Homo sapiens: one gene and its partner. The protein of the gene in region 2 purifies or fractionates together with the protein of the main gene of each other region. This does not show direct contact. Each region holds a gene or a part of one and is shown on either strand. Other genes may lie near its edges. The genes, in order: CRAT and CHN1.

The links.
Region 1: the proteins of CHN1 (region 2) and CRAT fractionate together in Homo sapiens (co-fractionation; one large-scale study listed by BioGRID). This does not show direct contact.

What each region holds. Positions count from the first base shown.
Region 1 is NC_000009.12:129,100,515-129,104,332, forward strand, and holds part of CRAT (carnitine O-acetyltransferase), read right to left. Parts: intron 3,793-3,818; coding exon 3,674-3,792; intron 2,553-3,673; coding exon 2,499-2,552; intron 2,052-2,498; coding exon 1,886-2,051; intron 1,544-1,885; coding exon 1,369-1,543; intron 176-1,368; coding exon 1-175. UniProt on the Homo sapiens protein: Catalyzes the reversible transfer of acyl groups from carnitine to coenzyme A (CoA) and regulates the acyl-CoA/CoA ratio. Also plays a crucial role in the transport of fatty acids for beta-oxidation.
Region 2 is NC_000002.12:174,876,361-174,880,178, forward strand, and holds part of CHN1 (N-chimaerin), read right to left. Parts: intron 1,769-3,818; coding exon 1,480-1,768; intron 1-1,479. UniProt on the Homo sapiens protein: GTPase-activating protein for p21-rac and a phorbol ester receptor. Involved in the assembly of neuronal locomotor circuits as a direct effector of EPHA4 in axon guidance.

The DNA of each region.
Region 1 (3,818 bases), on a different chromosome or scaffold from region 2:
AGCGTCTTGTCGAACCAGCGGTTGCCGCTGTTGAGCCTGCTGCCGCCCCCATGCAGCATCTGGCCTGCCACGTGGCTGCGGTACACGTCTTCTGAGACCCTGGGCATGGTTGCATCTAGGCACACGGTGAAGATGCTCTTCTGGATGGAGCGCACGGAATCCCGGTTCACCTTGTCTGCAGGTGGCATGGGGCGGGGAGACGCAAAATGGGGTCTCATGGTGTGGGAGAGATGGACCAGCCCCTCCGCAGCCTCCTGCCCTGGGCTCTTCTGACCCATTTGTACCTCTCTGGGATGAGGAGACCCCCCACCTCGCCGGCCCTCCAGGGCATTCACCAAGTGCAGGGTGTGGGTTCAGAGCTTCGAACTCAACAGGACCCTGCAGGCCCACAGCACTCCTCGAGGCAGGGCCCAACACCTGGCCCACTTTAGACACAGGAAACCGAAGCCCAGGGGTCACATGGGAGCTGGTGTGGCAGCCGGGGAACCCACACAGGTGGTCTGACTTTGGGGTCAATGCCCCTGAGCAAGACATGCTTTGGAGGACTGCTGGTACTTGGGGGCACAGGGGGTGTGGAGGCGGGTGGGCTTCTCAGCCAGAGGACTTGGACTCTAATCCTAACTTGCTATTTAGCTGAGAGAAACTACCCTAACCATGAGGTGTCCTCAACTAGGACATGGGGCCCACATTGCCTGCTCCACGTTGAGAGGATGCAGCGGGAAACATGTCTGCCCATGGCTGTGCGGGGCCCAGCATGCCGGGGGAATGTTGGGAAAAGGACTTGTGGGGTGCCTGTATAAACTGGCCATAAAAATAGGGGACAATAAGTTGTGGAAAGCCAGAAGAGGCCACGGAGGAGGAAAGCCTACTAATTGCCATCATGTTCCCATGCTCAGAGCGAGACCCGCTCTCCTATCTGTAAACACTGTGTTCAAGGAGAAAGACACTCCTTTGAAACACTGGGAAGTGGACAGATGTGCAGGCTCCTAGTTAAGCCCGCTCCCACCAGCTACTCTCCGATAAGTTAAAGACACGCTGTTTGAGCACAAAGGAGATTCATTTAAACTGCTATTGCTATAGATTATGCCTCCTATGAGGCACTGCCTCCCTTTCACTGTTTCGCCCTGAACATGTGCTTCTTAGAGCTAAGTGACTGCACTCAATAGTGTGGAGACCAGAACTCTGCGCCTTTTGCAGCCTCCATTTTGCAACTGGCCCCTGGCTCCCACCTTCATGAACTCTTAACCTGTCTCTTCTCATTCCTTTGTTGCCAGCAGACTTCGGGTACCCTACAGGTGGAGTTGAGGCTGGTCCCCAACAGGGGAAGAGGCCTGGGTGTGCAGCCCCAGCACGGCCCCCAAGAGGCACCTTTGATGAGGGTGTTGTATGCCTTGGCCCAGGAGTTGCGGTGGTTGGAGGTGAGGATGCCCACAGGCTCCTTGTTGGTCTGTAGGGATGAGTTCCAGATCTTCTCCAGCTGCACAAAGATCTGATCCGCAGTGAGGGGTGTCCCGTCACTGTGGTACACATCCAGCTCAAAAAACTGTTGGGGCACAGGCAGGTAAGAGGAGGGAGCTGAGTGGGGACCTCAGGCTGAGAGCAGCCACCTCCCCACACCTGCCTCCTCCTGGCCTTGGCCTTGGAGGGGATGGAGTCAGGCCAAGGGTGAGAGGGGGAGGAGGTCCTTGGATCACCCTTCTGGGCTGGGCAGGCCCACGGCCCCTCCTGGCCTCCCTGGGCCCCCAATGGAGAAGCCAGGGGCGCCCATTCCTGGGGCACGTGGGCACGTGTGCTGGGGAACCCCAGTGGGGAAGCCGACTGCGGCCGTCCGGCTGTACTCCTGCAGCAGGGCCGGGGCTTGTAGGTGTGGGTGGGGGCCACCCACCTGGTAGTTGTGTACCACGGTGATGTGCGTGGGAGGCTTCTTGGTCTTGCTGAAGTTGCTGACTGTGTCCTGCTTGGGGCCCGGCACTCGGCAGGAGGACAAGATCTGATAGTACTGGTTCATGCACAGTGGCTTCCCCCCCAGGTACTCCACGGGCAGGGTCTCGCTATGGGGTAGAGGGGCAGTGAGGCCACCACTGGGCAAGTGAATGGGGAGGAGGGCAGGGTAGACAGGGACCTGCTAGGTACTGCTGGGGGCTCACACAGTGTCCCTGCTCCCACTCCCAGATGAGCAGGACACCTCAGGGCTGTGCTGTGGGCAGGGGGCTCGCTTTCTGCCCCAGATGGGCCCTGTTCAGAAGTCATCTAGAAACTCCCTCCTTTCCCCTCTCTGGGCTTCAGTTTGTCACAGGGGAGATGAAGCAGCGAATAAAACTCTGGGGTCCTCTTTAGTTGGGATGGGACAGGGTCACCCACCAAGAGGAGATTCCAGCAGCTGGAGCAGGGCCCAGGGCCCAAGCTGGCATGCCGGGCCAGGGCTGGGGTCAGAGGTGGCTGTGGTAATTAAGCAGGCCTGGGCAGGTGTGGGGCTGGGCAGGGGTGGGGATGCTCACTTGTCAATCATGACCTTGAAATCCAACACACCCTCAATGAGTTTGGCAGCAAATCTGGAAAGATTGATTAGAGATTAGAAGCTGCGTGGACACCCTGAGGGAGGCCCCGGGCTAGGGACACCTGCTTGGGGAGCGGGAGGTCTAGTCTTCCAGCCTCTCTCACCGCTTCCAGAAAGCCTGGGAGCGCAAGGGAGGGGCCTGCGAGTCCCAGCTTGCCAGCCTGTGTGTGCTTCTTCATAACCTCTAGAGGGAGCATGGTCGGGAGGGCTCGGGGAAGTGCTGGTGGCCAAGGGCCTAGTAGGACTTGGGTGCTGGCCCCCTGCAGCTGGAGTGTGGCTTGGTTAGGGGTCAGTGGGCTGGGTCTACCCACAAAGGGCCTGAGCTCCTGAACCTCAGCCTAGAATCTGGAGGGGGTGTCATCTGCTCTGAAGCATCGGTTCTGGAGGCCCCGGGCCCCTGGGGTGGTGTGATGGGAGAGCAGTGGCTCCGGTGTTCCCTCCACTAGGTCCCTTCCCCACTCTGGGCCTCTGTGTCCCCCAGGCCGCCTTCCTCCCAGGGCTGTCTGGCCCATGGCAACCACCCTCAATGCTTGGGGCCGCCCCTGGATCCCACCATGGGGACCAGTGGCTGGAGTTCCTGGGCCTGAACCCCGGCCCTTCCCAGGGTACCCTGGTCCCTTTAAGAGAAGCAGGTGGTGGCAGCCAGTGGCTGGTCCTTGGGCAGGAGATCCTTGTCACTGGTATTTTTATCTCTGGTAGGACTGGAATAGGGGCTGGGGCAGGTGACCTGGCTGAATGTGGAAAAGAGGACTGTGTACAGAGGTCACCCCTGTGGCTAGCTGAGAAGAGTGGAAAGGAGAGGTGAAGTGCTAAAACTGGGGTCGGGGAGAAGCCTCAGGTATGGAGGAGGATGGGGCCTCTGCGAAGATGTGGTGGTTAACAGCCATGAGGCTTTAGAGCTGGAGAGACCCTGCTTCCTGAATGGGGTCTTGGGCAGCTCCCTTCCCTGCTCCGAGCCTCAATTTCCCCATTTGTAAAATAGGGAGGATGCTCCCTACTTCATAAGGCTGCTTGTGGGGCAGAAAGATAAACAGGGTCGGGGCCCCTCCAAGCGGCTGGGCGAAGTGAACTCGAGGGGCCCGGCTGCCTCCTGGCCCCCAAACCCCAGCCACTCACCGGAGCTGACCCTGCAGGTCCACGAAGTCCTGCTTGGGTAGCATCACGCCTGGGCTCGAGTAGATGACCACAGGCTGGCGGTACTGGAGGTAGGCGGTCTTGAGCCACCACTCAGACAGCTGGGAAAAGTGCCAGAGCCTGTCAG
Region 2 (3,818 bases):
TTAGAATGTTCTAGCAAATCTGCAAAGAATATAATGTCAGTATTATTCAAATACAAGCATTACTAAAAAATGCCATAAATGGAAAATCAACCAATAGTCAGAAAATGGGAACTAGACCATGAAAAGAATATTAAATACAGCAGGTATTAAGGATTTTAAGTTCTGGCTACTTCCAAACAAGATTTGTGGTTCCTAACAATATGAATATATAAAAAAACAATTTTTATACATTTTCTACAGCTTATCCTTTTAAATGTTGTTTTCTCCGTAGCAACAAAATGCCAATGTAAGATCTGCCAAAAACTAAAATTTGAGCTGGACACAAACTTTCTTATTTCCATTCTGTACCCAAATACTCTAAGGTAATGGGAAGTTATTTGAGGATGCTGCCTTGAGGTCAGATGGCTGCTATATAATAACATTACCACCAAACTACATTGAGTGTCTACATGTGCCAAGTGCTGATGGAGCATTTTACGCTTGCTATCTCACTCACTCCTCACAGCAATTTGACCATTATTACAATTTTACAAATAAGACAATCAAAAGCACAGACAAATTAGGTATTACAACTTGCACACAAATCTTGCATAGAATCCGAGCTCAAGACCTATTGCATTTCTTTGGTTTAGCAATTGAAGATTCTTAAAAACATAAAAATGAATTGACACAGTTCCAATTACAATACCTAAAATGCCCCCAACTAAATGTCACACACTATAAAACATCAGGAAAATCTCTTACTTTTTTCTTGGGGGTGAGGAGGAGGCTGGTGGCAATTTTCAAAAGTAAAATAATCTTAATGCCAAGAAATTAAAACTTTTATGTTAACCTGAAATATATCACAACTAAAATATGACAGCTAAAAAACTTAAATTGTCTTTTAGAATTAATTGTCTTTTATAATTAAGGAAAAGTAAAAGTGAATCTTACTCATTCAATTACTTCTTAACAGATTATAAAGAGATAAATCCTCCTCCTATTCAAGAATGACTGACTCCCAAAATGTGTGTGTATACATACACACACACATAATATACACACACACATAAAATCTTGCTAAGAACACAACTATTTATAAAGTAAATTATCTTTAAGGAAAACAAAAAAGTAATTTTGAGAGATAATGCAACCCCCTCAATTACTTACGTAATAGTAGCTATCTTTTCTTGACCAGGAGTTATGCTTCTGACCAATCCCCTGAACTATTTTTTATTAGGGGCCATTTTTCCAACATAGTTTTAAAATTGTGAAACTGATAAAACAGAAAACAACCAGGAATATAAAAATTTACCTAACATATTTTAATAGAACAAGAATTAGTTATATGCAAAGCTCAGCATCACAGAAACTAGACATTAAGAAAAATGAATATACTTTCCAAAGCACTGTGGATAAATCAATCTCTTCTGGCAATAATGGCTTTCTTAAAAGAACCCCAAACAGAAAAAGATAAAGTGTGGTTTCATAGTAGCTTACCCTTTTCTCTGACACCCCATCCTGGCCTGTAGAATCTCTCTCATCATGTGTCTCTTTCAGGACTGGCATATGTTTTTTGTATGCTGGCTCTCTGTTTAAGGTTGTGTATCCTACGTGCTCATAAATTGGGTTTATCGTCATCTTGGCAATGTATTCTGCTGCCTTGGTTTCAATATAGAGAGTAATCAAGCCATCAGTCACCAGATCGTGGATGGACTCAAAGCGTTTCTCCCCAACAAAGTGCTTGCCATCGTAGTAGAGCCTGAAGTTTCTGGTTTGACTTCCAAATCTGCCTCAATGAAATGGGAAAGATGTTTTTAAGAAAAGTAAGCAACTGAATTCTTTCTGAAAAAAAAACAAAAACAAAAAAAAACTATCGCTTTGTTTTGTGTGTGTCTTCTTTGTTTAAATAAGCTGTGGCTAATCTCTCTGAATCGTCTGGAATATATAAAATTAAACCTTTGAACACAAAGAATGAGCTTGCAATAATTAGGGACAACTAGTCAAAAGCATGCCTACCATAGAAATAATTTTTTTTATTTATCTTTTTAAACCACTTTATTATACCTGTGGAAAAAATGGGAGAAAATAAACCTCACACCACATTAAAACATAGTCAATATTCAATTGGCCAACTCCATAATAGATGACATTTCTATACTAACATTTTTTCTTCAAGTTGATCAATAAGAATATTCAATGTACTTTAGACCTCAGCAGTCATGTATTTTAATAGGAAAGCTCCATTTAGGGCTAACCAGAATATGATGCCAGCAATCACTTAAAGTAGAGCTGACTCCAGAAACCTGAGCCATGCAGGGCAGGATGGCACAGAAACACACTTTCGCTACTTCTGGCCACAGGCCAAGGACTTATTCTTTCGTTTTTAAAGAGTCATTATTCTGTCTGCTGGTTAGGTCTGTGCAAGAAATGTTTGAAATACATACGGCACAAAAGTCATAAGCTATTGGACTATAGAAATTCTGTTTTCAATTTTATGTTCTGATGATGTGCTCTAACAACTGAAGAATAATGGTTTACTTTTATGATAATTTCAGTATTTTGCTTCCTGCAGCAGACCTCAGAAATGGATCCAATTTGGCATGATTAACATCAGTGTCCTTGCAGGAAGACACAGGCAAGAAAATGCACTGACTTTAATGAAAGCAGATGTCAAAAGGCAACAAGGCAACAAGAGCTGCCAGTGTAATGGTCTCCTGAAGGTAACCCCGAGTGAGACTAATTAAAAACTAAACAAGTCACAAAGGATATATTTAATTTCATTGTTAAAAGTACAACAGAACAGGGATGAACTAAAATACTAAAATAAACGCTGTTTAAGTAAAGCGTTAAATGGGACTATAAACTTGTTATATAACAAAATTGTTCTGGTATAGGTTATATTCCAAATGAATAGGAGTTAGGAACATCTTAATGTGGAAATAAAGTATGGAAAGGAAATAAAATATTTTTTAAAATAATAGCCAGACGATGTCTGTTTCTGTAGTTCAAATTAGACTTTAATAACAATTTAATCTAGAATCCAACGTACTATCCATGTTGGCCCTTCTAAAGCATAATTTATCCATCCTTTAGTAACAATCAAATTTTGATTTACACTTAAGTGAACTATCCATATAATTACACTTTCTTGTTCTCCATTTTCCTCTAATGTTAAAGACACATTTCTCCCAAGTATATTTTCATTATAAAGCCTAAAAAATTAGACAGGTGAAATTTCTACACCAAAGTTAAATATAAAAGTTTTTCAGTTTAATATACTGCTTTCATCATTTCCTTTTTTTCTAATATACATTATCTGCAACATGGAAAGCAACTCCATAGCTTTTATAAGACTCCTACAATAATAAACACACATAGCATTGAGTCCCTTTATATTTCGGTTGTATCAGACACATTTCAATGAGGGCTCAGACCATTTTACTCCTGCTGGGACTTACGATTTTACAGTGGGCATTTCTACAGTGGATACAGAACTTAAAAACAATCCAAGCAATGGTGTCAGTCATTTAGTACTCAATTGCCTTTTGAAATCTGAGAAGTATGGGGGGCACAGGGCATGAAGGGAAGATGGCTGCACTGGGAATGGTTTGATTGACTAGGAACTAGGAAGTCTAGAGTTAACTTCCTAGTTCTTTCCAATGGACGATGCCTAATTCATCCAAGAAGAGGCCTGGCTACCTGTAAGGAGCTGTGCAAAAAACCCTATTTATCCTTTTCTCTTTCTCAACTCAGTGATTTCAGGAGACCCTGCCCACAATTTCCAATTCCTGCTCCGCCTGTACTTCAGCTCCAGGCTTCCAATCCAATAAAACTTT